Linked DNA regions of Homo sapiens. The protein of the gene in region 3 interacts with the protein of the main gene of each other region in a biochemical or structural test. Each region holds a gene or a part of one and is shown on either strand. Other genes may lie near its edges. The genes, in order: CDKN1B, ARIH1, CCNE1 and SKP2.

Region 1 (7,575 bases), on a different chromosome or scaffold from region 3:
TCACTCTGTCTCTCCCGGGCTGGAGTGCAGTGGCACGATCTTGGCTCACTATAACCTCCGCCTCCCAGGTTCAAGCAATTCTCCTGCCTCAGCCTTCCGACTAGCTGGGATCACAGGCGTGTGCCACCATGTCCAGCTAATTTTTGTATTATTAGTAGAGACAGGGTTTCACCATGTTGGCCAGGCTGGTCTTGAACTCCTGACCTCAAGTGATCCACCCACCTTGGCCTTCCAAAGTGCTAGGATTATAGGCGTGAGCACCGTGCCCAGCCCTGATGCTCCTGTTACCACTCCCCACTTGCTCCGCCCTATCCACCATGGGCCCCCCTGCTGTTCCTTGAACACATTAGGCAAGATCCCACCTCAGAGACACTTCATTTGCTCTTTCCCCAGATAGCTGTATGGCTGCTCTCTCATGTCTTCAGGGCTTCTCTCAAAGGCCACCTTTTTTGTGTGTGTGAGATGGAGTCTCACTCTGTCTTCCAGGCTGGTGTGCAGTGGCAAGATCTTGGCTCACTGCAACCTCCGCCTCCTGTGTTCAAGTCATTATCCTGCCTCAGCCTCCTGAGTAGCTGGGATTACAGGCCTGCACTACCATGCCCAGCTAATGTTTGTATTTGTAGTAGAGATGAGTTTCATCATGTTGGCCAGGCTGGTCTTGAACTCCTGACATCAAGTGATCCACCTGCCTCTGCCTCCCAAAGTGCTGGGATTACAGGTGTGAGCCACTGCACCTGGCCTCAAAGGCCACTTTCTCCATGAGGCCTTCCCTGACCACTTATTCACATTGTGATCCTTGAAACACTTCCTTTTCCCTCTCCGCTTATTGTTTCTCCATAGCATTTTTCACCTCCTTACATAGTATGTACTTCTTTCATGTGCTGTGTTCATTTTCTGTCTCCTCTCCCCTTTTTGGAATGTCAGCATCATTCTAGTTTAAATCTGTTTGTTTACTTCTGTGTTCCCAGAGCCTAAGGATAATGTCTGGCATAGAGGAGGCACTCAATAAATATTTGTTGAAAGAAAGAAGGAATAAGCAAATTAATAGAAGGTGCTCCGTAAATATTTGTGAAATTGAATTAAAAGTGTCAGAAGGAGATGACTGTGAAATTCCCAAAGTCTAAAAATATGTGAGCTTAGAAGAATGGTGGAGTTGAGTGCTGCCTCATTATAAACATCCTCGAGGAAGGACTGAAACTGTGTGCTTGCGGTGGGAGGGGCAGCTGGGCAAGGAACCGTGAACCTTCGCAGAAACATTTGGGGCTGCAGAACTTGGGTGAGAGCGCTGCATCTGGGAGCTGGCGACGCTGGCGGCTTGCTCATTCACCCCATCTGAACACTTGTCTATGACACAGGTGTTTTCTCTTAAGTTATTTTGGTCTTTGCCTCTCTCCTCAGGTTGTGAAGATTACAGAAATCTGGGATGGCTTATGGGACGCTTCTCAGCCCTAAGTAGGAAAACAGCAGTGAAAATGGCAACCAAAACATCACGCAGGACTGGGGGTTTTGGGGAAACAGCTCACTTTAGAGCAGTGCAGTGTAGAGCTTTCCGTCTTTTACCAGGGTCCACCTTTAACACTGTTTATCTGAAAATTTTCCCCCTGGCTTACTCGCTTGCAGCTGCCCACTTTGCAGAAGGATGGCGCTCTGATCTCTACGCTCCCTGTTCCTTCAGGGACTCCATAGTATTTTTTTTCACGCGTCGTCGCTACTACAGCAGACGCCTGCGTTCTCATTATTTGCTGTACAGATCTCCGGTGCCTTGACTGTAAACAAAACACTTTAGATCATTGTGAGGTCGATGTAAGCACAGCCTTTCTGCTGGCAGCCAGACTTCTTAAGGTGGTGTGACTGTGACTTGCTTACTTTTCGAGATCAACAACAACAAAGCGACAAAATGGTGCTCCTACATATTAGTTGAAAGATTCAGCATGTGAAGGGGATCGAAGTGTTTATTTTCCACTTCCATATAAGACATGAATTCCATGAGTAAAATCAAACTTCTGTGGCAAGGTGAACTACTCTAGAATGTCTCCATTTACATACATGTGGTAGTTTGGGTGTTTATGCATATGGATAGATGCACATATATAGAGTTCCTGTGTTGTCTAGCAATTGTTTTAAAATTTGGACAATTATCTAATTTCTAGGGTAAGGTATAAATTATGGTAGGGAGGCCTACCCTAATTTTCCTGTTCCTTTTCCCCCAGTCTGCAGTCCAATAAATTGACAGCCTTAAAAGTAGAAAAACTAAAGAGGATGAGACCTCTTGCTTGATCCTAGGTGAATTCTTTTCTGTCAGTTAGGTAGGAAGTCCTGACTTGAAAACTAGTTCTGGGCACTGCCCCCTTTACTGTTCTCTGGGTATCAACCCCTGTCCTTCAATTTTAGTTGAACTAGTGGATGGTGATACCACAGGCTCAAGACAGCTGCATTTAAATATCAGTGACCACAGGCCACATCAAGGAAACATCTGCAGGCAACCCAGGGCCTGGGAAGGAGCCATTTTCAGTCACTTGTAAGACAGCAGGACCTGCAGACTACAGCACAATCAAACTCAGACAAAACCCTGAACCAGTGAGAACCATTAGGAAGGAAAGGAACAGAAAATGAACCAACCTGAGTGTTAGGAGACTTGCATCTAGTCCTGACTCCGGTACCAACCGAATGCATGTCCCTGGACAGGAAACCTCTCTGAGTCTCGATTTCCTCCGTGGTAAAAAGGAGAGGGTTAAACCACAGGGTCCCGAGGGTCCCTTCCAGCTGTCACATTCTGGAGCGTATGAGATGAGGTAGGCACACAAAGTGGACAAGATGTGGCTAAGAAAACAAGCTACACATCAAGCTCATCTGTAGCATAGGTGCTTAAGAAAACTTTGCTGCTGTGTAATATTAGAACGGAAGGTTGGTTTCCAGTAAAATGCATTAACTTTGGCTCAAACCAAGATGATGGGTACCGGGCATGGGGGTGGGGAGGCAGTTGAAGATCCACTGAGCTTTGTCTCAGGGCAGCCCTGCTCATCGTCCTACTTTACCTTCCACCACGGTGCTCAAGCCCACACTGAGAGAGAAATTTCCAGCTGCAAAAGGGAGAAGAGAAACGCTGGAATACTAGTATCGGACGTTAGGACATGGTTGTGGTGTTTTAAAAATCATTTCATCATCTGGAGTTTGACCCCGAGGGGAGTATTTTCACCCTTCAGCCCTCTGAAAGCATTCACTAGCATCTGAATATTGTTCTGAGTTTGTTGGAGCAGTGAAATCTGGTGAGAGAGAAGGGTGGAGGAAGGAAGGAGCTGTTGTATTTGGCGGCTGGACTCAGGTAGAGGAAACTGCTACAATCCCGGGAAAGAACAGAAAAGTAGAAAGGGACGAGTTCCCACACGCAGCCAATGTCCATGGCCTTAACTGTGCTTGGGAAGGAAGATCCTGGGCCAGGGGTGTACCCTCGTTTTTCAAAACTAAACGTGTCTGAGACAGCTACAAAGTTTATTAAGGGACTTGAGAGACTAGAGTTTTTTGTTTTTTTTTTTTAATCTTGAGTTCCTTTCTTATTTTCATTGAGGGAGAGCTTGAGTTCATGATAAGTGCCGCGTCTACTCCTGGCTAATTTCTAAAAGAAAGACGTTCGCTTTGGCTTCTTCCCTAGGCCCCCAGCCTCCCCAGGGATGGCAGAAACTTCTGGGTTAAGGCTGAGCGAACCATTGCCCACTGCCTCCACCAGCCCCCAGCAAAGGCACGCCGGCGGGGGGGCGCCCAGCCCCCCCAGCAAACGCTCCGCGGCCTCCCCCGCAGACCACGAGGTGGGGGCCGCTGGGGAGGGCCGAGCTGGGGGCAGCTCGCCACCCCGGCTCCTAGCGAGCTGCCGGCGACCTTCGCGGTCCTCTGGTCCAGGTCCCGGCTTCCCGGGCGAGGAGCGGGAGGGAGGTCGGGGCTTAGGCGCCGCGGCGAACCCGCCAACGCAGCGCCGGGCCCCGAACCTCAGGCCCCGCCCCAGGTTCCCGGCCGTTTGGCTAGTTTGTTTGTCTTAATTTTAATTTCTCCGAGGCCAGCCAGAGCAGGTTTGTTGGCAGCAGTACCCCTCCAGCAGTCACGCGACCAGCCAATCTCCCGGCGGCGCTCGGGGAGGCGGCGCGCTCGGGAACGAGGGGAGGTGGCGGAACCGCGCCGGGGCCACCTTAAGGCCGCGCTCGCCAGCCTCGGCGGGGCGGCTCCCGCCGCCGCAACCAATGGATCTCCTCCTCTGTTTAAATAGACTCGCCGTGTCAATCATTTTCTTCTTCGTCAGCCTCCCTTCCACCGCCATATTGGGCCACTAAAAAAAGGGGGCTCGTCTTTTCGGGGTGTTTTTCTCCCCCTCCCCTGTCCCCGCTTGCTCACGGCTCTGCGACTCCGACGCCGGCAAGGTTTGGAGAGCGGCTGGGTTCGCGGGACCCGCGGGCTTGCACCCGCCCAGACTCGGACGGGCTTTGCCACCCTCTCCGCTTGCCTGGTCCCCTCTCCTCTCCGCCCTCCCGCTCGCCAGTCCATTTGATCAGCGGAGACTCGGCGGCCGGGCCGGGGCTTCCCCGCAGCCCCTGCGCGCTCCTAGAGCTCGGGCCGTGGCTCGTCGGGGTCTGTGTCTTTTGGCTCCGAGGGCAGTCGCTGGGCTTCCGAGAGGGGTTCGGGCTGCGTAGGGGCGCTTTGTTTTGTTCGGTTTTGTTTTTTTGAGAGTGCGAGAGAGGCGGTCGTGCAGACCCGGGAGAAAGATGTCAAACGTGCGAGTGTCTAACGGGAGCCCTAGCCTGGAGCGGATGGACGCCAGGCAGGCGGAGCACCCCAAGCCCTCGGCCTGCAGGAACCTCTTCGGCCCGGTGGACCACGAAGAGTTAACCCGGGACTTGGAGAAGCACTGCAGAGACATGGAAGAGGCGAGCCAGCGCAAGTGGAATTTCGATTTTCAGAATCACAAACCCCTAGAGGGCAAGTACGAGTGGCAAGAGGTGGAGAAGGGCAGCTTGCCCGAGTTCTACTACAGACCCCCGCGGCCCCCCAAAGGTGCCTGCAAGGTGCCGGCGCAGGAGAGCCAGGATGTCAGCGGGAGCCGCCCGGCGGCGCCTTTAATTGGGGCTCCGGCTAACTCTGAGGACACGCATTTGGTGGACCCAAAGACTGATCCGTCGGACAGCCAGACGGGGTTAGCGGAGCAATGCGCAGGAATAAGGAAGCGACCTGCAACCGACGGTAATGACCCTTTCCCAACCATAGAATGTGTTTGGGGCCCCGCTTTGCCTGCTGGAGGGTGTTAACCTTAGCTTGCTTTTCGGCGTATTCTGATTTAGCTTTGGGAGAGCTAACTTTATTGGTCTTAGGTGTTCAGTGCTACCTGGCCCACTGCTTGTCTGTTTGTGACTTTTAAGTCAGAAACTGGAGATGGTAAGATCCGATAATTTCCCTAACTTAATACATCGCGGTCCCTCTCACTAGCAACTCCTAGGTATGTGACAAAGTTGGGATGTTTATCAACGGTCCGCCTCCTGGCTAGGGAAAGAGCTCTGGGGCGGAGAATGCACTTTCTGTTTTTTGAAAACAACCTCATTTTGTGCCCTTAAAAGCCACTGGGGATGACGGATCCAGGATTGTGGGTGGAGGTAGTGGGTTTTTCATCCCCTGACTATGGGGCCAACTTCTGCCAGCCATTGTTTTTTCTAATAAAGATTGTGTGTTCTTTTTAAAAATTTCCCCTGCGCTTAGATTCTTCTACTCAAAACAAAAGAGCCAACAGAACAGAAGAAAATGTTTCAGACGGTTCCCCAAATGCCGGTTCTGTGGAGCAGACGCCCAAGAAGCCTGGCCTCAGAAGACGTCAAACGTAAACAGCTCGGTGGGTTGATCACTAAAGGAGCACGCACTGGAACCCGGGGCCTTCAGACCTCACGATACCTGATCTTACTGGTTGCTGGCAAATTAAAAGCTTATGGGGTTTTGTTTTGTTTATACTTCGTGAGGTCAAAAAAGTAGCAATGGGGAAGGCTGGGGATACGGTAATTCCTCAGAGTTTCTATGCCCAGAGATACTTTCTCTTCAAACTGTTGACCAGAGCAGCTACTTGTAACCCAGGCCCCATCGGGTAGGAAGGTCGTTTCCCTGTGAGTCCCACTAAAACGTGTTGGGAGCAATAGGTTCTTTGCCCATCCGAACAAGAACTAGGGTACTCCCTCAGTCCGAATTAATGAGAATTAATTTCCTAGAGGTTCAGCTTGAGTCGGTAACAGATTTTGAGCCATACATGGAAAAATGGCAAATACATGATTAAGTTTCAATTTTGAGGGGGAATGTTTGGTAGAAATTGCTCATCTTTGGTTATGCAAGGGATTAGAGATGTGAATAGGATGGTATGTTGTGTTCTTTGACATTTTAATAAACTGTCACTTTCCCTGTTGTCTCCTAAGTTTGGAGAGAGAAGGAACCAGTATTTGCAAAAACCAAATGGAAAGATAAAAAAGTTACTAAAGTTTCTACAGAATTTCTGGTAACACTGAAGTTGCAAAGCAGAAGTTAAATTAACTCTTGTCAGTAAGCAATCCAGGAACACGTCAGCCAGTGTATGCTAATTGTGCCGTAACAGGGTGATTTGGATATTTGTAGGGGAAATGGGTAGTAAATATCAAGACTGGTGACCGTAGGTCAGCCCAGCACAAAGGAAGTGGAGATTTTTCCATGCACAAGAATCTGATCACTGTAAATAGCTAATTTGAATAATTCAGTCCCCAGATAACCAACATGGGTTGGTTATTCATAATAAACTACATATTTTAATAGTTTATTAGCTTCCTTTAGACCAAGACTGTGACCTCTTTATTTTCTAAAGCACACACGTAGTTTAGCATATGAGGCGATAAAATATTGATGTTAACTTTTTAAATCCCCAGTTATAAAAATTTTAAAATAACAGGGATTAAGGTGAGATTCAGGTTTGTTGTGTCTTTAAATTGTATATGTGACTTCACATATCTTTTTCAGCGCTTATACAAAACGGCACTATAGAACCTCCATTTTACAGCACCATATGAAGTGGGAAAATTAGGTGAAAATTTTCCTGAAGCAACCTTAACATGCGCAGCCCTTGTTGGTTTGTGACTTGTGGCCTAGCTCATCAGATGAGCCACGAGAATCAGACCTGGATTTTGATCTGGCCCTGTTCTGACATGCAATGAGGCATTTGTAGGATTTAGTAATATTGCTAGTTCAAAGAATACTAGAAATATTAGTAAGAACCTATTCAAAAGTATTCATGAGTATTTTCTGCATATGAATCAGGAATTAGAATATTTTGAAAATGATGTTAATAAAATTTTCCTCTGGAAGGCCTTTATAATTTTTATTCCCAATCATTTTTCAAATTTAGAAAGTTTAATCTGTCACAGGAGAAAAAAAATTAAAAATTTTCAAAAATTTAGAAAATTTTTACCCGTAAGTATTACAGTTTCCTAATTATCCTATTTATTTCCCACTTGCCTTTGACCTAGATTATTTAGAGTAGGGTTTCTCAGCCTCTGCACTAATGACATTTTGGGCCGAATAATTCTGTTGTAG
Region 2 (7,427 bases), on a different chromosome or scaffold from region 3:
AGCCTCCCAAGTAAGTGGGATTATAGGCACATGTCACCAAGCTCAGCTAACTTTTATATTTTTAGTAGAAACGGGGTTTCACCATATTGGCCAGGCTGGTCTTGAACTCCTGGCCTCAGGTGATCTGCCCACCTTGGCCTCCCAAAGTGCTGGGATTACAGGTCACTAGGCGTAGTAGGGCTACTACGCCTGGCCCTACTGCAGTTTTTAATAAGAGATGAGTTCTCTCAGCTTTTGTCTATAAGAGAATGTCCTTACTTTTATTTTTGAGGGGTATTTTAGTTGGATATAGGACTCTATGTTGACCTTTTATTTCTTCTTTCAGTACTTTAAAGAAGTTATTTTATTGTACTCAGGCCTCATTTGTTTCTGGTGAGAAGTCATTCATCATTTTAATTTTTATTTCCTTTCCGTAATGTGTGGTTGTTCTCAATGGCTGCATCTGTGCATTATATTTACTTTTCAGTAGATTGACTAGGGAATGTCTAGGTATGTTTTTCTTTGTATAGAGTTTACTGAACTTCTTGGATCTGTGTTGATGTCTTTCATTAATATTGGTTCTTTCTTGGCCGTTATCCGTTTACATTTTTCTCTTGTCTCATACTCTCTTGCTTCTCCTCTTCTTTGGAGATTCTAGTTACATGTATATTAGATGATTTGATATAAACCTACAGATCTCAGATGATTTTTCCCCTGCCCTGTTTTCTTTTTGTTTTCAGTTTGGATACTTTCCATTTAACCATCTTTAAGTTTTTTGATGCTTTCCAATGTTAACCTGTTAAACTTGTTTATTGAATTCTCCATTTAAAAATTTTTATTTTTAGTTATTTATGGATACATAGTTGTACTGAATTATTCATTTCTAATATTTTTATTTCTAGCATTTCATTATATTTGTATAGTTACAATTTTCTGCTGAAATTTCCTATTTCTTCATGCATGTTTTCCACATTTTCCATTCTACTTTTTAGCATTTTAATCAGTTATTTTATTGGGTTTTTTCTGTTTTTTCTTTCATTTTTAATCAGTTATTTTAAGGATCCAAACTGATAATTCAACATCTGGGTCTTTTCTAGTTCTGCTTCTATTGAGCCCTTCCTCTCCCTTACCATGAATCTTATTTTCTTGCTTTTGCACGTCTTGTATATTTGATTGGATGATGGACGTTTTATGTTGAAAAAAAAAAGAAATTGAAGAAAATGTTTACTTCCAAAACAGAGCATGCCCTTTGTTTTTTTTTCAGGCCACTTGAATGGTGGCTCAATCTGATGTATATGAATTCTAGACTGGGGCTTCACTGCAGTTTTAGTTTGATTCAGTTTGCCTCTAGCTTCAAATATTTGAAGGAACGTAGAATCAGAACTCTCATATCACCAGGGCCTGAGTTTTGGGCATTGGCAAGATTCCAGAGATCTGACTTTGCTTCATAGCTAAGCCACCAGCTTTTATCAATGTGGGAGATCTTTCCCTACTTTACAACCTTGCTGCCAGGATTTTTTTTTTTAATCAATGGGCTGGGGATAGGAGGATCTTTCTCAGCTCTCATGTGTGCCCTGCCCTTTTGTAGAGGAATGCCCACAATGCCTAGGGGATGGGTTTCTCAGCATTTCTGACCCCATTTAGGCTCCAAGAGTGCCTCTGTTGGATTTCACAACAATCCTGCCTCCCCTTTCATTTTTAAAGGGTATTTTGCCCTTGGGAGAAGTCAAGCTCTCTCAGCGTTCCTTCTATTATCCACACCTTTAGTGTACTACACCTTCCTGTACCTGGTTATCATCTAAGGGGTAAGATTGGTGGGAAGCCTTCCTCTGTGGATTTGGGTCATCTAGGTTCTAATGTCAAACCAGCCTCCAAGGGGTTGTGAAAATGTTGTTAAATTTCAGCAGGTTTCTCTTTTCTCCCCCCTGTAGTATTCCTCTTCCTACCATAGTTCAACTAGGAATAACAACAGCTAGGGGGTCTCTTCTCTCCTATGAAGGACTTGGCACTTTCTGGAGTTTGGATCATTTAGGTTTCTTTGGTTTTTGTTTTTATTTTGAGACAGGGTCTCACTCTTACCCAGCCTGGAGTACAGCCTGTAGTGATCTCAGCTCACTACAACCTCTGCCTTCCTGGCTCAGTTGATCCTCCCACCTCAGCCTCCTGAGCAGCTGGGACTACAGGCGTGTACCACCACACCCGGCTAATTTTTGTATTTTTTGTTGAGATAGGGTTTTACCATGTTGCCCAGGCTGATCTCAAACTTCTGAGCTCAAGCGATCTGCCTGCCTCAGCACCCCAAAGTCCTGGGGTTACAGGCATAAACCACTGCACCCAACCTAGATTTCTTTGTGTCCTTAGCTTTCTGATGAATTAAACATATGTTTTATTTTCTAGCTCATCTGGCCTTTTGTTGTTGTTTGCTAGAGTGGGAGGTATATTCCTTGTGACTTTGTTCATATCACTAGTGAATTTCAGAAGTAGGAGTTTATTTTTTTAATAAAAAATTTTTTTAGGTCAGGCACAGTGTCTCATGCCTGTAATCCCAGCACTTTGGGAGGCCGAGGCAGGTGGATCACCTGAGATCAGGAGTTTGAGACCAGCCTGGCCAACATAGTGAAACCCCAACTCTACTAAAAATACTAAAATTAGCCAGGTGTGGTGGTGGGCGCCTGTAATCCCAGCTACTTGAGAGACTGAGTCAGGAGATTTGCTTGAACCTGGGAGGCGGAGGTTGCAGTGAGCCGAGATTGTGCCACTGCACTCCAGCCTGGGTGACAGAGCAAGACTCCCTCTCAAAAAAAAAAAAAAAAATTTTTTTTTAAACACGTCTCACTGCCACCCAGGCTTGAGTGCCATGACATGATCATAGCTCACTGCTGGCTTGACCTTCTGGGCTCAAGTGATCCTCTTGCCTCAGCCTCTTGAGTAGCTGGGACCACAGTCATGTGCCACCATGCCTGGCTTTTTTTTTTTTGTAGAGTTTGGGTCTCGCTATGTTGCCTGTGATCCTCCCACCTTGGTTTTCCAAAGTGCTGGGATTAAAGGCATGAGCCACCATGCCTGGTTAGGAATGGGAGTTTAAACAATGGTTTTATTTACATATTTCATTAGCTAGTATTTTTTTCTTTTTTGAGACAGAGTCTGGCTCTGTTGCCCAGGCTGGAGTGCAGTGGCACGATCTAGGCTCATTGCAACCTCTGCCTCGTGATTCTCGTGACTCAGCCTCCTGAGTAGCTGGGATTACAGGCGCCCGCCACCACACCCAGCTAATTTTTGTATTTTTAGTAGAGACAGGGTTTCACCATGTTGGCCAGGTTGGTCTCCAACTCCTGACCTCAGTTGATCCACCCGCCTCAGCCTCCCAAAGTGCTGGGATTACAGGTGTGAGCCATCGCTCCTGGCCTCATTAACTGTTTTCAAAAGTAAAAGTACATGGATAATACAAAGTTAAATTTTGTAGAATCATAAAGAAAAGCAACACCTTCCCATCTTAACTCCCCTAGTGCCTCTACTCCCTCCACAGAGACAAATATCTTACCAGTTGGTTGTGTTTTCTTTTCCAAACTGTATTTCTAAAATGTGTCAATATCTCTTCCTTTTATTTTTTATTTTTTGTAGAGACAGGGGTCTCACTGTGCTGCCTAGGCTGGTCTCAAACTCCTGGCCTCCTACCTCGACTTCTCATAGTTCTGGCGTGAGCTACTGCACCTGGCCTCCCCCTTATTATTTTTTTAAACATGAATGGAAGCATACTATATTTTCTACACTTTATTTGTTTTATGTAACTATTTTAACAACCTGAGGACTTTTACAGGCTGCATAATATGTCTTAATATGGATGTATCTTAGTTTATTTAAACAGTTACTGGTGATGGACATTTCCATGTTTCCAGTATTTTTTCTCACAAACAATGCAGTATTATGCCTTTGTCCACATTCACCATTGATTGCTATTGAGTATATCTGTAGCATCAAGAATAGGCATACTGAAAATCCTCCATGAAGTCCAGTGAAGCTTCATATTATTTTGAAGTGATATTTCCCAGTGTTGGCTGGACTCTCAAGCGTTTGTGGTATAGGTTTTGGGAGGACTGGACACTTCCAAAGAGAAATAAGATGTTACAGACTTGTCCAGCAGGTGGCATCAGAACAAAGCTGGCTATGGACCTTGTCAGTACAAATGATAAAACATTAAAAATGTAAAAACTCAACTGTAGCTCCTTGTTTATACATATATTGGGGGTGTTGAAAAGTTACCGATGCCTGATTCCTCTTCTATGTCCTCAGCCCCCACCATAAAAATAGATAAATGCCATTTTTTTTGTATGCCCAGCACAGCTATATGATTTGAATAATCTTGATAAGCAGGGTCACATTTGAGGAGATTTGCTAAGGGAAATGAAGATCCATCTGTGACACAAGAAACATGTTCTATGTGATTTCTGGGATTTTCCTGTGAACATACTTCTTGTTTGTTTGTTTTACAGTGGATCTCACTCTGTCACCCAGGCTGGAGTTCAGTGGTGCAATCATAGCTCACTGCAACCTTGAGCTCCTGGGCTCAGGAGAGCCTCTCTCCTCAGTCTCCCAAGTAGCTAGGACTACAGACACATGCCATCATGCCAGGCTCATTTTAAAATTTTTTGTAGAGACGGGTCTCACTATGTTGCTCAGGCTGGTATTGAACTCCTGGGCTCAAGCAATCCTCCTGCCTCAGCATCTCAAAGTGTTGGGATTACAGGTGTGAACCATAGTATCCAACCTATTATGTTTTTTTAAAAAGAGATTGTTCTAATTATGTATATAATTAAAGTACATTAGGTTTAGTGATTGCAATTTGAGAAACCAATGTCCTTTCTTATTGAAAAAGGCCCTGGTACAGAAAGTGTTCTATCTTCCTCACAAGATCTGAGGTCAAAGGAGAGATTTTGAAACATTATAGCAATGGCTTCTAGTTATTGAATAAAGAATGTCATTTGCTCCTCACAGGACCCCTTTCAGGGAGATTTCACATATTGGGAAACAGCCTCATGAGCTTTCTACAAACATCTTTGTCCTTAAGTCTTCCCATTTCAGTAATTGGCTGTACCACTCATCCAGCAGCTTTCAAAGTAAGAAACCTGGCAATCTTCCTTTAACATCCATTTCCCTTTCCCTCATTCCCCCATATCCAATCATGTGTATTGGAGGTTTTTCCACCTCTAAACTTGAGAACCCATTTACTTTTTCTCCATCTCCTTTGCCATCACACTAGTCCAAGTGAAGTGTTTCATCATCTCATTTGCAGCATCCTTTAGTTTACCCTAGATTATCAATTTTTGTCCCCCTCCCAATTCAGTCTCTACTCATGAGCTAACATGAGTTTATTAAGTGTTCATTCTGACCATGCCATTCCTTGCTCAAAATTCTCTAGTGCCTTCCCAATGCCCTTAAAATAAAATTCCTCATATGGCCTTTGTGGATCTGCACTCCTACCTCTTCTCCTATTGCAACCAACCCTGTTACCTTTTTCTCTTTTCACACTGGTCTTCATTCTGTGCTGCAAACTGGCTGAGATTCTTCCATCCTCAGGGCCTTTGCACAAGTTCTTCCTTTGCCTTAGAATTCTTTCCTGGCCTGCACATGTCTTCATCCCCTTTCCCTAAGCTAATGCCTTACCCTTTAGGTCTCATTTTAAACATCTCTTACCCAGGAAAAATTTCCCTGTCCAAACAAGTCTAGATTGGCTCCCCATTGTTTGTTCTAACTGTTCTATATTTCTCCTTCTTAGCATTTATCACAATTCTTGGTATGTTGTGCTTTTCACTTTCTTAGTCGCTATTATTGGAGTAGGTAATACATCCATATAGTACAAAATTCAAAATGTATTAAAGGTATAGAGTAAAAAGTCTTCTCTTCCCTGTCCCCCCGCTACCCAGTTCTCCTCTTTAGAACCACTTTTAGCATTTTGAATATCCTTCCAGAAATATTTTCTAAGTATACAAGCAATTATGTATATAATATTCCTCTTTATTTTTGCCTTTTTATTAATACAGATACTATATGCATTTTCTGCACTTTATCTGTTAATAATATATCTTGGCAATTATTCAATATTAATATGTAAATAGTTGCCTCTTTCTTTTTCATGCGCCATATAATATGGACTTATAATTTATTTAACCTCTATCTAGGTTGGTTTTAGGCATTGGTTATTACAAATAATGCTGCATTGAATACCTTTGTATGTAAAGTCATTTCCCACATCTATGCCTATAGAATAAATTACTAGAATTGAAATAATTCAGTTAAAGATTATGTGCATTTTTAATTTTGGTAGTTATTGCCAAACTGCTCTCAATGGAAGTTTTATGAATTCCCACTAGTGAATGCATTTGTCCTCACAATTATGTCAGTGAAATTTTTGTTCTTTGCCAATGCAAGAAATGGAAAGTATCTCTTGGAAACTAATTTGCATGTTTTTTTTCCTTGCACAGTTATATTTTCATATGTTAAAGAGCCATTTGTATTTCTTGGTGAATTGTTCATAAACTTTGCTTACTTATTATCTAATGTCTGACTAATTTGCTACACTCTAAATTCCCAATTCATACTTAAGTCTCGCCCTTGCAATTTAGATGTACAATCTGCCTCTTCAGTGGTTTCCACACCAAAAAATCCACAGGCTCCTGAATTTTATATGGGCCTAAGAGTCTTACTGAAAATTGGAAGTCTTAAGGTGTAGTCTATTTTATGCAGTGTGAGGCCTTTCATGCTCTGAAATGTACCACTCTTGACTGACTTTTTCTTCTTCACCCTGTCCGGCACTGTGCCCTTATTAGCCAGAGAAATGTTCCCCCTTTCTCCCAGGAAACGTTCTGACCTTACCCTGGTCCCTCAAGGACTCTCCTTCTCCCCCAAATTAACTTTCAAGGAGTTTCTCCAACCCAAAATGGCACCCTTCCTGAAAAGATTTCTAGTGGATACTGTTTTCTGTACCTCACTACGGATGTATTTTGCTGCTTGGCTCCCCGTCTCCATTTTGCTATGGCAAACATTTTTTTCCAGAAATATATCAGATAAAATGAACATGTGGTCCCTTTTGTTGATTTTTGTTGGGATCCATGGTATTGATTTCTTCTAGTTTAGATAATTCCACCGTGGCAAGCTTTTATTCCTAGCATAGCGCTCATGAGGAGAATGTTAGTCACTTGGTGTTATTAATGCTAAAATAGTAAACAAGAACACAAAATTTGCTAGATTAGAAGTGGATTTTTTTTCCAGGCTGGGCACAGTGGCTCATGCCTGTAATCCCAGCAGTTTGGGAGGCTGAGGCAGGCAGATTGCTTTGAGCTCACGAATTCGAGACCAGCCTGGGCAACATGGAGAAACCCCGTCTGTACTGGGGCTAATTTTACCAAAAAAACTAGCCAGGTGTGGTGGCACACACCTGTGGTCCCAGCTAC
Region 3 (7,427 bases):
TCTAAGATCTACTTAACACGTCCATTTTGTTGTTTAATTTTTTTGCACAAGACTCAATCTTTCTATTGAAGTGGAATCCTGGACTGTTACTTTTCAGAAAATAATCCTATGTAAGGAAAAAAGTGGTATGAGGAGTTGGAGTGGTTAGGAATCCCGTGGGTCTCTTATTGTTATCTCATTCTTTCCTAAATAAAGTCAGACAGATCTTGCTTTGAAACTTGGTGTACACTCAAGGACATAGACTTAATTATTCTACCTCATCCACTGGTCCCTAAAAAGGCCAACTTTGGAAACCATTTGTCTGCTGATGGTTCACCTAGTTTGGGAACTGCTGCTGGACTCATCTATGTCCAAAGGCCTGCTCTCAGATGTGCCAGCCATCTGGCTGTAGAGGGTGGCACCCAGCATTATGCCTTCAAGACTAGAATTCATTCTTCCTGAATGAAGAACAACTTACAGCGGTTGTAATGTGACCCTTTTTGAGTTAAGGAAATGCCACCCGCACATGGTACTAGAACTGAAAGGAAGCAGCCTTGCTCGCACAGCTGTTGGCAGGAGCTGTCATGGATAATTTGCATGCCCAATTCTTTGTACATTGGGTGGGGAAGAGCTTTATCTGGCTTTGCTCTTCTAACTGAAAGTGCTTGGGCTTCCTCTGAAGGCGGCCAATGTGTTGTGGTCGCCACCATGTGCTGTGTCTTCGAGGTAGCACTTACAGCCCGAGTTTCCACTTTCATTTATAGTGACCCCAGTTGTCTATTTTGTTCTTTAGTCAATGTTAATGGTCTCTGCTTTTTTTTTTTTTTTTTTGGGGGGGGGACAGAGTCTTGCTCCGTCACCCAGGCTGGAGAGCAATGGCGCGAGCTCGGCTCCCTGCAACCTCCGCCTCCCAGGTTCAAGTGATTCTCCTGCTTCAGCCTCCCGAGTAGTTGGGATTACAGGCGCCCGCTACCACACCCGGCTAATTTTTGTATTTTTAGTAGAGACGGGGTTTCACCAGGTTGGCCAGGCTGGTGGTCTCTGCTTTAAAAAAAAAAAAAAATGCCAGGTGCGGTGGCTCAGGCTTGTAATCCCAGCACTTTTGGAAGACAAGGCAGGAGGATGGCTTGAGTCCAGGAGTTCGAGACCAGCCTGGACAACATGGCAAAACCCCATCTCTACAAAAAAATACAAAAATTAGCTGGGTGTGCTCGTGCATGCCTGTAGTCCTAGCTGCTCAGGAGGCTGAGGCAGGAGGATCGCTTGACCCCAGGAGGCAGAGGTTGTAGTGAGCTGAGATTACACCACTGCACTCCAGCCTGGGGAACAGAGGGAGACCCTCTCTCAAAAAAAAAAAAAAAAAAGCCAAGTCTCAGACTTTCATATGGCTTCCATGCTAGTAGGATTGTTACCTGCCTAATATCTTTAGCAAAGTTACTATTTTATAACTTTAAAAATCAAACAGACTTCTTAGAGTAGGAATAGCTTTAAAAATGAAAATATTCTAAATGGACTTTAGTGTTTTTCAGATATTGAAAATTGAATACATATCTGAAACCTTTAAAAGAAAAGCATAGTGCTTTGGTTTCTAATAGTTCCTTATTTTATCAGGTATTTGAATTACCCTGCAAGACTCAGGAGATTCAGAGGTCTTAAGGAGTGTCTAGGCTAGCTTCCTGTAGACTTCATAGTATGACCTGTGACCATCACTTGATTTGGTTTTAACTAGGTGGATGTTCATTCTGTTTGTTTCGAGTTAAGGAAAAGAAAAAGTCCTTTATTATTTAACATATTTGGCTAGTCCTGCAACAAAAAGAAAATGTCACATTTGATGAGTTTTTGTTTTAAACTGAGGGGACTTTAATACATATGGCAGCCAAATTTACATTTTTGATCTTTTTTTTATTATACTTTTAAGTTTTAGGGTACATGTGCACAACGTGCAGGTTAGTTACATATGTATACATGTGCCATGTTGGTGTGCTGCACCCATTAACTCATCATTTAACCTTAGGTATATCTCCTAATGCTATCCCTCCCCCCTCCCCCCCATTTTTGATCTTTTATACTAATGAATGTGAAGTGCTTATGTAAATATTTTTATTGACAGTTCTGTTTTACTTTTAAGAAATTTTAGTAGATGCATTGTACTCATTAAAAAAATCTTTGAGTTGTGACAAAAAATATCATAATGTATCTTTTTGGAAGCACTTTCAGAAGTCATGCCTAGTATCTTACTGAGTTGCAGGTGAATTTGTAATGTTTTTGGGTAATGTAAGAGCTGTTTGCATCTTATCTCACCTCTCCTGTGTATTTTTCATTTACAGCCTTGGGACAATAATGCAGTCTGTGCAGACCCCTGCTCCCTGATCCCCACACCTGACAAAGAAGATGATGACCGGGTTTACCCAAACTCAACGTGCAAGCCTCGGATTATTGCACCATCCAGAGGCTCCCCGCTGCCTGTACTGAGGTCAGTGCCGACTCTGCCACATGGCTTCCAGGTCTCTTACTCCATGCTCCCCTTTATCCCTCATAGCATGGACGCATTCTTACCCCTTTGTGGGCCTCATTTTTGTTGTGTGTTTTGTTGTAGCTGGGCAAATAGAGAGGAAGTCTGGAAAATCATGTTAAACAAGGAAAAGACATACTTAAGGGATCAGCACTTTCTTGAGCAACACCCTCTTCTGCAGCCAAAAATGCGAGCAATTCTTCTGGATTGGTTAATGGAGGTGAGCTTGAGTCTTCCTGTTCGCTTCATGAAAGCACTGAGCATTTCCAGCATTTTTGTGTATTAGGACCTCTGTGTGGTTTATTCCCTCGACATGTTCTCCATCTCTGAAGCTATATGGTATATTTTTACTGTGGTGGTCTTTCTGTTTTGCTTGTATTCTTAGCAAGAATTTCTGAAATCTTTTTATCCTTCAGATGTTTTAAAATTGGCATCTAATTTTTTCCATCCAAGTTTAAATAATTGTTAAGATTGTATTTTCCAGTAAATTGTAACTGTTAACATTTGAGCTTTGTTCATTATGTTCATTAAATTGCTTTTTTTTTTTTTTTTTTTTTGAGATGGAGTCTTGCTTTGTCACCCAGGCTGGAGTGCAGTGGCACAATCTCAGCTCACTGCAACCTCTGCCTCACGGGTTCAAGTGACTTTCCTGGCCTCAGCCTCCTGAGTAGCTGGGATTACAGGCGCACGCCATCACGCCCAGTATTTTTTTTTTTTTTTTTTGAGACGGAGTCTTGCTCTGTCACCCAGGCTAGAGTGCAGTGGTGCGATCTCAGCTTACTGCAAGCTCCTCCTCCCGGGTTCATGCCATTCTCCTGCCTCAGCCTCCCGAGTAGCTGGGACTACAGGCGCCCGCCACCACGTCTGGCTAATTTTTTGTATTTTTAGTAGAAATGGGGTTTCACCGTGTTAGCCAGGATGGTCTCGATCTCCTGACCTCGTGGTTTGCCCGCCTTGGCCTCCCAAAGTGCTGAGATTACAGGCGTGAGCCACCGCACCCTGCCTAATTTTTGTATTTTTAGAAGAAACGGGGTTTCACCATGTTGGCCAGGCTGGTCTTGAACTCCTGACCTTGTGATCCACCCACCTCGGCCTCCCAGAATGCTGGGATTACAGGTGTGAGCCACCATGCCCAGCTAAATTGCTTTTAAATGTATTCACTGGGATGCATATATCACCTGTTTTATAGCTACTGTCATAAATTGTAAACATATATGAACAAGCTTATCTTAAACAGGTCTGACATTGCTCCTTTTTAACTTCTTGGAATCCATTCCCTTTTCCACCATTCCCATTTATTCTAATAAAATATATTGTTCAAATCCTGGCTGGGCACAGTGGCTCATGTCTGTAATCCCAGCACTTTGGAAGGCCAAGGCAGAAGGATCCCTTGAGCCCAGGAGTTAGAGACTAGCCTGGGCAACATAGCGAGACCCCATGTCTTTTTTTTTTTTTTTTGAGACGGAGTTTCGCTCTTGTTGCCCAGGCTGGCATGCAATGGTGTGATCTTGGCTCACCACAACCTCTGCCTCCCGGGTTCAAGCGATTTTCTTGCCTCAGGCTCCCGAGTAGCTGGGATTACAGGCATACGCCACCACGCCCGGCTAATTTTGTATTTTTAGTAGAGACGGGGTTTCCTCCATGTTGGTCAGGCTGGTCTTGAAGTCCCGACCTCAGGTGATCCGCCCGCCTTGGCCTCCCAAAGTGCTGGGATTACAGGCGTGAGCCACTGCGCCTGGCCCTTGAGACCCCATTTCAACAAAAAATAAAAAATTGTCAGGGTATAGTGGCTCAGGCTTGTAGTCACAACTACTGGGGAGGCTGAAGTGGGAGGATTGCTTGAGCCTGGGAGTTGGAGCTTGCAGTGAGCTGTGATAGCGCCACTGCACTCCAGCCTAGGTGACCATGAGACTCTGTCTCAATTTTTTTTTTAAGCATATTTTTAAAGATATTTGGACCATTGGAGTGGCTTCTGTGTTTTGAGACAGAGTTGCTCTGTCACCCAAGCTGGAGTGTAGTGGTGCAGTCACGGCTCACTGCAGGCTCCAATTCCTGGGCTCAAGCAGTCCTCCCACCTCAGCCTCCGCAGTCCTTGGGACTACAGGCATGAGCCACTACTCCCTGCCGATTTTTTATTTTTTGTTGAGTTGGGGTCTTGCTATGTTGCCCCGGCTGGTCTCCAACTCCTGGGATCAAGGGATCCCCATGCCTTGGCCTCCCAAAGTGCTGGGATTGCAGGTGTGAGCTACAGCACCCAACTCAAATCTTTTCTTGGTCCACACTATTTTATTTCTCTTTAACAGTTAATCAAAAGAACAAGTATAACAACATTTGATAGATAATGGTTAAACATAAAAGATGAGATTTTATTGGTTGTATATCTTACTGGGATGAACTGCGGTAGCTTATAGTTTCTTGATTAAGGGAAGCTTCCTAGACAACCTTGTAAGACTTGAATGGGTGAGAAGTGGGCTTTTCTTCTGAAGTGGAAGGACATCTCAGGCAGACCTGCTTCATGAAAACATGTAGAAGTTGAGTGTGTAACTACAGAAGTACCCCTCATCCTCGGGGGTACATCCCAAGACCCGCAGGAGATGCCTGAAGCCACAGATAGTACTGAGCTCTAGATATGCCATGTTTTTAATCCTCTACTTTCATGTTTTCACTTAAAGAAAGCACTTCACGGCTTCTCTTTGGCATTTCCAAATAGCCAGCATCACTACTCTTGCCCTGTGGGGCCATTATTCAGTCAAATAAGGGCTGCTTGCTTGAACACCAGCACTGCTGTGCTGTGACAGTCCATCTGATGACCTGTGTGCTAGTGAGTGACTAACAGGCAGGTGGCCTACTCCACGGGGATGTGCGGGCAAGGGGATGATTCACATCCTAGGCAGGTGAGGGTGGGACAGGCCAGAAGGGCCCCTCATTTAAAACCTATCAGTTGTTAGGCTGGGCACAGTGGCTCATCCCTATAATCCCAGCACTTTGGGAGGCCGAAGCAGGTGGATCACTTGAGGCCGGGAGTTCAAAACCAGCCTGGCCAACGTGGTGAAATACCATTTCTACTAAAAATACAAAAATTAGCTGGGCATGGTGGCGGGTGCTGGTAATTCCAGCTACTCGGGAGGCTGAAGCAAGAGAATCGCTTGAGCCTGGAAGTTGGAGGTTGCAGTGAACCAAGATCACAACACTACTTTCCAGACTGGGTGACAGAATAAGGCACCTCAAAAAAAAAACAAAAAAACAAAAAACTATCAATTGTTGAGTTCAGGAACTTTGCATTTTATATTTTCCTTCACCAAAGTCATTACAAGTTTTTTTTTTTTCCCCTCCCTCAAGTAAAACTTACTTGTGCTAAAACTTACTAAATATGTTTTCAGGTGTGTGAAGTCTATAAACTTCACAGGGAGACCTTTTACTTGGCACAAGATTTCTTTGACCGGTATATGGCGACACAAGAAAATGTTGTAAAAACTCTTTTACAGCTTATTGGGATTTCATCTTTATTTATTGCAGCCAAACTTGAGGTAAATAATTTTCAAATATTTGTTCTATAATGTGTGTTATTTCTCGAGCTCCACTGAGATTGGGGGAAGAGGTTGGCGCTTAGCCTATAGCACTCATCCTAAATTTTTCTGATTTGCTACCCTGTAAAGTTAAGACACATGCCAAAAAGAAAAAAAGGCTGGAAAGTGACCAGGAAGAGAAAAGTAGTGAGGGTATGGAAGACCTAGGTTCATGTAGTTACATTGAGCCAAAAAAAAAAATGAACTTTGAACTAAGATAATAATTTTGGGCCCGGGTTGGTGGCTCAAGCCTATAATCCCAGCACTTTGGGAGGCCAAGGCAGCTGGGTCACTTGAGGCCAGTAGTTTGAGACATGGTGAAATACCATTTGTACTAAAAATACAAAAAATTAGCCAGGCGTGGTGGCACGTGCCTGTAATCCCAGCTATTCGGGAGGCTGAGGCAAGAGAATTGCTGGAGCCCAGGTGGCCGAGGTTGCAGTGAGTCGAGATCCTACCACTGCACTCCAGCCTGGGCAACAGAGGGAAATTCTGTCTAAAAGAAAAAAGAAAAGATTAAAAATTTGTGTATGATTATCAAAGGGTATATGGGCCCAACTTTCAAATGTGTTAAAGGTACTGAAAAGGGGATATTTCAAGAGTACCCACAATGAGTCAAAGTTCCATCCATTTATTTAATGGTGGGTGGGAGTTGTGTTCTTTTTTTTTTTTTTTTTTTTTTTTACAACCATTGGTGTGGCTTCTGTGTTAATTCCATCAGTGCGCCCTCTCTCTTTCCATGCCAGGGTACTGAGAAGTCATTTTGGATGCATTATAAATTGAGACTGTTAGAGATTGGCTTTGGTGCTAGTGCCATCTTTTATTTCCTTTCAGGAAATCTATCCTCCAAAGTTGCACCAGTTTGCGTATGTGACAGATGGAGCTTGTTCAGGAGATGAAATTCTCACCATGGAATTAATGATTATGAAGGTGGGTTCCAGTGAATTTTCCGGCCATTTTTTAAATGCGTACGGCAGATCTTTTCCACCTGAAGTGTGAGTGCCTCTGGGAGGTGTTCTCCAGCTGGACACATTGTGGCATGGAACATGGCTGCATTTTGAACTTCTTTTCTCAATCATCGGTCTCTTTTCTCTCTGTTTTCCTTTAGGCCCTTAAGTGGCGTTTAAGTCCCCTGACTATTGTGTCCTGGCTGAATGTATACATGCAGGTTGCATATCTAAATGACTTACATGAAGTGCTACTGCCGCAGTATCCCCAGCAAATCTTTATACAGATTGCAGAGGTAAGTGGCTCCATCACGTCCGTGGGGCCACCTTCCCTGCAGCTGGAGTGAGGAACTCTAGAATAGGCGTGTGGTGGCATCCATCTCAGCGTTCTTTTCTTCTCCGTAGCTGTTGGATCTCTGTGTC
Region 4 (7,427 bases), on a different chromosome or scaffold from region 3:
TAAAAATTACTAAATAAATAATTCAGGGTAATTATTTAATTGAATCTTGGTATAAGGTATTTCTAAACATAAAAGAAAACATAGGGAACACATAAATTTACTACATAAAATTTTAAAACTACCATATTAAAACAATTTAAAAAGTATCAGAAAACTGGGAATGTTTTCAACATATATTAAACAGTGAGTTAATCTTATATAAAGAGAAAAAAGATAAATCAAAAATAGGCAATGAACATGAACAAATCTACATTGCAAAATACCAAGATAATAAAAAGGAGCAAGAAATACCAAATAAAATTAGAAATATTTCTTCTCAGCCATCAAGTGAAAAAAAATTCTATTATAAAGTAGGTCTACCATAAAGTAGGTCTTCCATGTACCACAGGTAGATATTTAATTTTATTTGCAGGCTTTCAGGAGCCTGAACCCTGCGTTTTTTGGATAGTGAACTGATTCCTGCTTTTTTTGGATAGTGAACTGATTTTCTTTTTTTTTTAAAGAATTCAGAGAATTATACAGTTTACTTTTGGCCCAGTAATTCCACTTTTAGAAAAATATAGATGTGTATGAATATATTCAATGTGGCAACAGTTATATTAGCCCCTCCTCCAGTTAGTTTAATATGTTAACCTCATCCATTCCGTGAAATACACTGCTAATCATTATGAAAACGCTTTCTGATAACATTTCATACATTTAAAAAAATACTAGGATAGCTTGTAAACAAAATATATACAATGCGTTATAATTTCAACTTGGTCAAAACACACTCAAACTCACATTTACACACAAACACATACACAGAAAGAAAGAGAGAAGAAAAAAAAAAGGCTGCAAGGAAATACATCCAAAATGTTAACTGCAGTATTCAAGGGTGTTTGGATTACAGGCAACTTTTCAGAATTTGGAAGAAAGTCATGTAAGCTACTTGGCAATCAGAAAATGAATCAATAAATGTTACTTATTTAGAACAACAGGCAAACTTCATTAACATTTGAGGGTTTTTTCGTCTCACAAGTATATCCCCTCTCCTAAATTCTGGACTTGCATTTTCAACTGCCTCCTCAACATACCGTTTGGATATGAGATAGGCCTCTAAATTTATGTCTAAAATCAAATACTCAATTTCTCCCCCAAATTTCCTCCTTCCCTAAACTCTTTCCCATCTCAGCAAGTGATAATTTCACGAATCCAGTGGCTTCAGCCAAAACCCTTGAAATCATAGTGGACTATTTTTCTCACATCCCACGTTCATTGTGTCACCAAATCTCATGATGTTGGTTTTTAAAATGTGCCCAAATCTGATCATTTCTTACCACCTTAAGTGTCACCAGCCTAGTCTGCTAACTGGTCTCCCTGCTTCATACTTCCCCGCTACAGCCTTTTCTCAACACAGCACTAGCGTGAGTCTTTTAAAATGAAGTCAGTCATATTGCTCTGCTCGAAATACTCCAATGGCTTCCCATATCCCATGTCACTTAGGAAAAATTCAAAGCTTTTGCCTTGGCTTAGACAGCCCTTGGCCATCTTTCTCCTCTCACTGTTCTCCCTGCTCCCTCTCACACATTGGTTCCATATCAAGGTATTTGCACTCACTGGTCCTTTGTTCTTGAATGTTCTTCTCTCACATATGCATATGGATTCCTTCTTCACTCAGTCAGTTCTCTGGGTCCAGTACAGTCTCCTCAGAGAGGCCCTGTCTTTAACCATTCCATCTAAAAGTAGTCCTCTTTCTGCCACATTCTATCTGGTTACTCTGCTTTGCTCTTCGTCCTTGCATTTTTACCTCCTTTCATAACATTTATGAAATATGTTCACTTTCTGGCTCCCCCACTAGAAAGTAATCTTCATAAGAGTGACTTTCTCTGTTTTGTTCAAGGCTCTGTTTTGTTCAATCACTGTAGGTGCTCAATAAATATTTAATAAATGACCAAAAAATGAAAAAAGTACACAATAAAATTTTGAGGGACCAATCATCTAGCCAGCCAACTAGCCATCAGCAAAATCTGATGCAATCATACTTTGACACCACTGGAGAAAGAACGAAACATTGGGGGATAAAGGGTTAGTTTCCTCTGGCCCACACTTAAGCTCTGTCCTCCCTGGGCAGGAAGTAGTTAGTAAACAGTAGTCACTGCCAAGGTTTCCTTTTCACTGTCCCCTTCATTTCACCATAAACAGTAGACCCAACCTGAGCTAGAAGGATCTTAGAAACCACCCGTTAATCCAACCCGTTACTTCAAAGGAGAGATGATTTCAGCTACAGAAGTCAAGGTCAAATCCAAGACCAAATGTTTCTGTGCTTCATCCATTGCTCCATGGAAAGGTAGTGATGGGGGTAGTGGGGGAAGGAACAGTATTAACAGCCAACACTAATTGAACTCTTACCATGTGGCAAGAAATGTTCCACATGCTGTACATGTCTTAACTCATTTATTCTTTCCTGTAACTCTAAGAGATGGGTTCTACTTATCTCCATTTTACTGCTGAGAAAACTAAGGAACAGGCAAGTTTAGCAACTTGCTCAAGTCTACCCAGTAAATGGCAGAGTGGATATTTGAACCCAGGCCATCTGGTACCAGTCTATGAGCTAAAACCAAATCCATATTATCTCATATATAATGAAATGGTGTGTGCTATTGTTAATGACATTAAAAACTTTTTATCCCCATGGTATAATTAAAAAACTAACACTTCAATTTACAGTCTGTCTCTCTGTCCTGAATGTGTCTAGCAAGCAGCATTTTAATACCTACTATTTCTGCCAAAACTCGGTAAACAGGCTCTCTGTTCTTTCTTGGAGGAACAAAGGGAAAGATTTTAAGCCAAATTTGGACAAAACCAACAGCACTTTGCCTACAGCAGTTTCTCAACCTTGCACCCAGAGCCTCGATTCATGTCAGAAAATCTTTCAGTAAACCAGTGAAAGATCCAGATGTGGGAAAGAAATATAAACAAGGCACTGCCTTCCCTTCACCTGCAGACAGAGAAGAACCAAGAGTGATGGGATTTCACACTAAGAGGATGCTCGTGGGTGAAGAGTTTAAACTTCTTGGAGGAAAATTTGGCAGAAACTATCCAAAACTTGAGAATAGTACTTAATGCTGGACCCAGCAATTCCACTTTTAAGAATCTATCCTTAGAAATGCATCTAAAGATTTGTCTCTGTCACTCATAAAATTGTTTATAGGAGAGAAAAACTGGGAAGATTCTGAAAGTCCATTAGAATTCTGATCAACTGCATATATTGTTATTGACTTAATATAAATTATTGCATATCTATTTGATGGACTATCACATAGCCACTGATGATGACATCATGTAGTCACTGAAAATGGGGTTAAAAAGCATATTACGAAGTATTTAATATACCATGTCCCATTAAAAAAAAAAACAGTTTTTGTACAGGAAAAAGCCTAGCAAGATGTTAAGATTATTGATAATTTGCTTCCCTTTGTGTTTTTCTGTATTTTACATTTTTTTTAAATGACTGTATAACACTATGATCAGTTTTAAAATAGTAATTATAAATACTGGGTGGGGAGAGTGGTATGAAATGAAGACATGATTGCTGCTTTTACAGCTTGCTAAAGAAAGTGTTCACCTTGTCTGAAAATGCAAGTGTTTGGAATGGCAGTAGTCCAAATTTGAGTCCTTGCACAGGTGAAAGACTCGAATTTCTACCCACTCATGAGATCCTAGCAATTATTTTCTATAGCTTTATACATCTTACCAGAGGACATCTGTCCTGGAGCAGTAGTTTTATACTACTTAAATTTTAAGATCTATTCTGCAGATGTTTGATTCAAATCTTTTTCAGAATAATAAAAACTATAATAAACAAAACACACTCAAATAAGCTAGTACTAACATCAAGATATGGTTGATGTGTGTTGCTGGTTTAACTAGGTTTTGTAGAGCCCACAAACTGAATGTTGGCCTGAGACGGTGAAGCCATTTAAAAAACTTGCCATTTGTAATCACTTATCTTTGCAAATCAAGATTTTCTCATTAACATACAAGTAAAATAAAGCGTAACTGAATATTAAGGTTTTTAAAGACTGCTCCCTGCTACCTTTGACTTCTAATGCCTGTTTTCATCTAAAAATCCTCGTTGCCCTCTTGGACTGAATAAAAAGTAAAAGTCATAAATATGAACTTATTAACAGAGTTTATAATAGTTTTTCAACCTTGGAACTGATGTTTGGACCAGATTATTGTGCATGCTATTCTCCATCCTATACACCGTCCACCAGCATCCTGGCTTCCGCCCATGAGAGACCATCAGCACTCCTACAGCTGTGACAATAAAAAATGTCTCCAGACATTGACAAATGTCCCCGTACAGACAAAATAGCCCCTAATGAACAACCACTACTTAATACTAATCAAATGCTACATTTATGTATTTTTATGTTGGGGTTTACCTAACCATTTAGTTGATTAAAAGTTTTTCTGCTTAAAAATACATTGTTTTCAAGTGTAAAGGTTTCTACTGTTAGATCCTGAATTCAAACCTTGGCTCTAGCTCACTAGCTGTTTACCTTTACCTAACCATTCTGATTAGCAGCTACCTCATCTGAAAAAGGGGACTAACACATGCACTGGATTAAATGAGAAAACTTATGTGGAGGAATGATTAGGAGAAGCTCAATGAATCTCATCTATTATGTTGTGAAGGCCTCAGTGGTCCAGGCTTGGAAGCTCTAACCTGATTTCTGGAGATTCTTTCTGTAGCCGCTAAGATTCAGCTGGGTGATGGTCTCTGACACATGCGCAACAGCCACCTGTACATGCTTTTCAGTGAAATCAAAACACCAGGAGAGGTTCAGCTCATCCAGTCTGCACAAAAGAGGGGTAATAAACAAAATATGAAACCATCACACGGGAATGAGTTTGCCTCAAACTGCAAACAAAGAAAATATAAAACCATGGATTCCTTATCATTTCATGCACAGAACACCTGCTTCTCTAACAGTAGCTACCTTTAGTCACCTAAGTATACCCTGTTTGCCCCTGAAAGTTGCCAGGGGATCAGAAGGGCCTTAGTGAATGTGCCTCCTCCTCGAAATGGAGAGAAGCACCTGATGGCTCAAACCTTATTCCAGTACTGCAGGTAGAAATGCCAGTCTTTTATGTTTGCTTTCTCAAACTACCAACCACCCAACACAGACTGAACAATCACTCAGGATGTTTTACGCAATTGATGGATTGCACTGAGGATTCCTAATAAAGAGATGCTGATATTGCAAAAAGCCACTTCGTCTTACTGTGCTTCTGCTAACTGAGCAAAAACGAGGGTTTCAGAGACAAAATACAACCATTAATCCCCACTCCCCACTTCTGGCACTGCTGACTAAATATAGGGCTATACATTTGATCTCACTGATAACACGCATATCCAGAGGCAATCTATTTTAAATGGACCATTAACAAGACACAGATTCAAATGCTGTACCATGGAGACCAAGGGATATTTTTAAAAAACACACATATGCCTAGTACTGTGTATTCCAAAAAGCATGTACTCCCCTCACTTAGCAATATCTGTAACTCTGTACCCTTTATGTGCTGACATTATTATGAAAGATATTGTTAATAGAATTGCCCAAATTTACGGTCTATATTTATAAAACACCAAATTTGATAAAAAATTGTAAGTTAGGTCTACAGATACCATAGGGGAAAAAACCTGAATGTACAGTTAAGTGTGAGCAAATTTCTTACAACCATACTGTTGATAGACACTACTACACTTCCCTTATTTTAACAGTTCCAAATAAACAAAAAAGAGATCACTATACAAGTATCACTTGCAAACTCAATTGACTTGGCTCCTGAGTTTGGACAGAAAGTTAGGAGGGCAAAAGATTTTGCATTCACCAAATCAAGAGCCTGGAAAGTACAAAAAGCTCAAAAAGTTCATCCCATTTTATACAGATGTGAGGGATAATTTTACGTTTGACATAAGAGTCTATAATCAAGTCTCACATCTTTCATACCTGGAACAGCTGCTTAGCAAAGTCTGCAGGGCAAATTCAGAGAATCCAGAACACCCAGAAAGGTTAAGTCGCACTAAATTTGAGTTTTTTGCGAGAGTACTGGAAAAAGAGAAAAACGTCAGAAGAAAAAGACCAGTAAGACACTATTCATCAACAACATTTAGATGAAAGCAGGCGAGTGTAGTTAAGCTCACAGGTCTTTGAGTCAGTGAGTTTAAAATGTATATCACTATCTCTCAGACATCAAACAGGATAATTTGCCTCAGTTTACTCATTTGTGAAATGGTATTATCAAACTTCTTGGCAGAGTTATTAAGAAGATTAAATGATATAATGTAATAAAAGACTTACTATGAAGCAAATACACAAGAATATCAATCAATGTACTTTTTGAATTAAAAAGACAATGGAATAAACATATATCCATTTCACCCATAATTAGAATTAGCTTGCAAACATCTACTTGTAAAATCACCAGGTTCTTTTGATTATACATCTCTCAAATTTGCCATCTTCTCTAATACATCCCCAAATGCCCTGTGTTAGTAAAACTTAGTGATTAAGAGTAAGAATTCTGGAATATTGTATCACTAGGTTCACATGTTGGTTCAGCCACCTACTAACAATGTGACCCTGGAAAAGACTTACTCAGTCTCCCTGTGTCTCAGTTTCCACAACTATAAAAAGGAAACAAGATCACACTTCATAGGGTTGCTGTCAGAATTAAATGAAAATGCATTTACAAAATTCACTATCTGGCACATAATACATGCCCCAAAACATTAGCTGCTATTACTGCTATCTGTTTTATATCAGACTTCACCTTTTCTCACTTGAACGAACACAGCAGTATCCTTAACTACTCTAGCTTCTTCTATCCTCGATGGACCCTCCATGGTACCTGGCAAGTTAATTTCCTAAATTTCAACTCTTGACTTGTTCCTTCCATTCTCAGAACAACTCTCTCCACCATCCTTCCCTTTTTTTATTTTTTTTTCAGATGGAGTTTTGCTCTTGTCACCTAGGCTGGAGTGCAATGTTGTGGTCTCAGCTCATGGCAACCTCCGCCTCCCGGGTTCAAGCGATTCTCCTGCCTCAGCCTCCTGAGTAGCTGGGATTACAGGTGCCTGCCACCACACCCAGCTAATTTTTGTATTTTTAGTAGAGACAGGATTTCACCATGTTGGCCAGGCTGGTCTCAAACTCCCAACCTCAGGTGATCTGCCCACCTTAGCCTCCCAAAGTGCTGGGATTACAGGTGTGAGCCACCACACCTGGCCCATGCTTCCCTCTTAATGGAAGAGTCCAGTCCATTCTTCTTACAGCAAGGCGTAGGGGCCCATTACAATCTGGTCCCTGACTCTCCTCACCTTGTCACTCTCCTCCCTTAGTCCTGTGCTCCAGCAACTTCCAACTACGTAA

What was found.
Region 1: of the proteins of CCNE1 (region 3) and CDKN1B, one has a biochemical effect on the other in vitro, tested with the Homo sapiens proteins (4 studies listed by BioGRID, with this or other methods).
Region 2: of the proteins of CCNE1 (region 3) and ARIH1, one has a biochemical effect on the other in vitro, tested with the Homo sapiens proteins (3 studies listed by BioGRID).
Region 4: the proteins of CCNE1 (region 3) and SKP2 form a complex in vitro, tested with the Homo sapiens proteins (2 studies listed by BioGRID, with this or other methods).

Annotation. Positions count from the first base shown.
Region 1 is NC_000012.12:12,713,092-12,720,666, forward strand, and holds the start of CDKN1B (cyclin-dependent kinase inhibitor 1B), read left to right. Parts: upstream 1-4,276; 5' UTR 4,277-4,748; coding exon 4,749-5,223; intron 5,224-5,733; coding exon 5,734-5,855; 3' UTR 5,856-5,863; intron 5,864-7,575. UniProt on the Homo sapiens protein: Important regulator of cell cycle progression. Inhibits the kinase activity of CDK2 bound to cyclin A, but has little inhibitory activity on CDK2 bound to SPDYA. Involved in G1 arrest. Potent inhibitor of cyclin E- and cyclin A-CDK2 complexes.
Region 2 is NC_000015.10:72,595,938-72,603,364, forward strand, and holds the end of ARIH1 (E3 ubiquitin-protein ligase ARIH1), read left to right. Parts: 3' UTR 1-7,050; downstream 7,051-7,427. UniProt on the Homo sapiens protein: E3 ubiquitin-protein ligase, which catalyzes ubiquitination of target proteins together with ubiquitin-conjugating enzyme E2 UBE2L3.
Region 3 is NC_000019.10:29,814,831-29,822,257, forward strand, and holds part of CCNE1 (G1/S-specific cyclin-E1), read left to right. Parts: intron 1-2,306; coding exon 2,307-2,452; intron 2,453-2,575; coding exon 2,576-2,711; intron 2,712-5,871; coding exon 5,872-6,018; intron 6,019-6,891; coding exon 6,892-6,987; intron 6,988-7,165; coding exon 7,166-7,300; intron 7,301-7,409; coding exon 7,410-7,427. UniProt on the Homo sapiens protein: Essential for the control of the cell cycle at the G1/S (start) transition.
Region 4 is NC_000005.10:36,169,021-36,176,447, reverse strand, and holds part of SKP2 (S-phase kinase-associated protein 2), read right to left. Parts: intron 6,105-7,427; coding exon 6,006-6,104; intron 4,846-6,005; coding exon 4,715-4,845; intron 1-4,714. UniProt on the Homo sapiens protein: Substrate recognition component of a SCF (SKP1-CUL1-F-box protein) E3 ubiquitin-protein ligase complex which mediates the ubiquitination and subsequent proteasomal degradation of target proteins involved in cell cycle progression, signal transduction and transcription.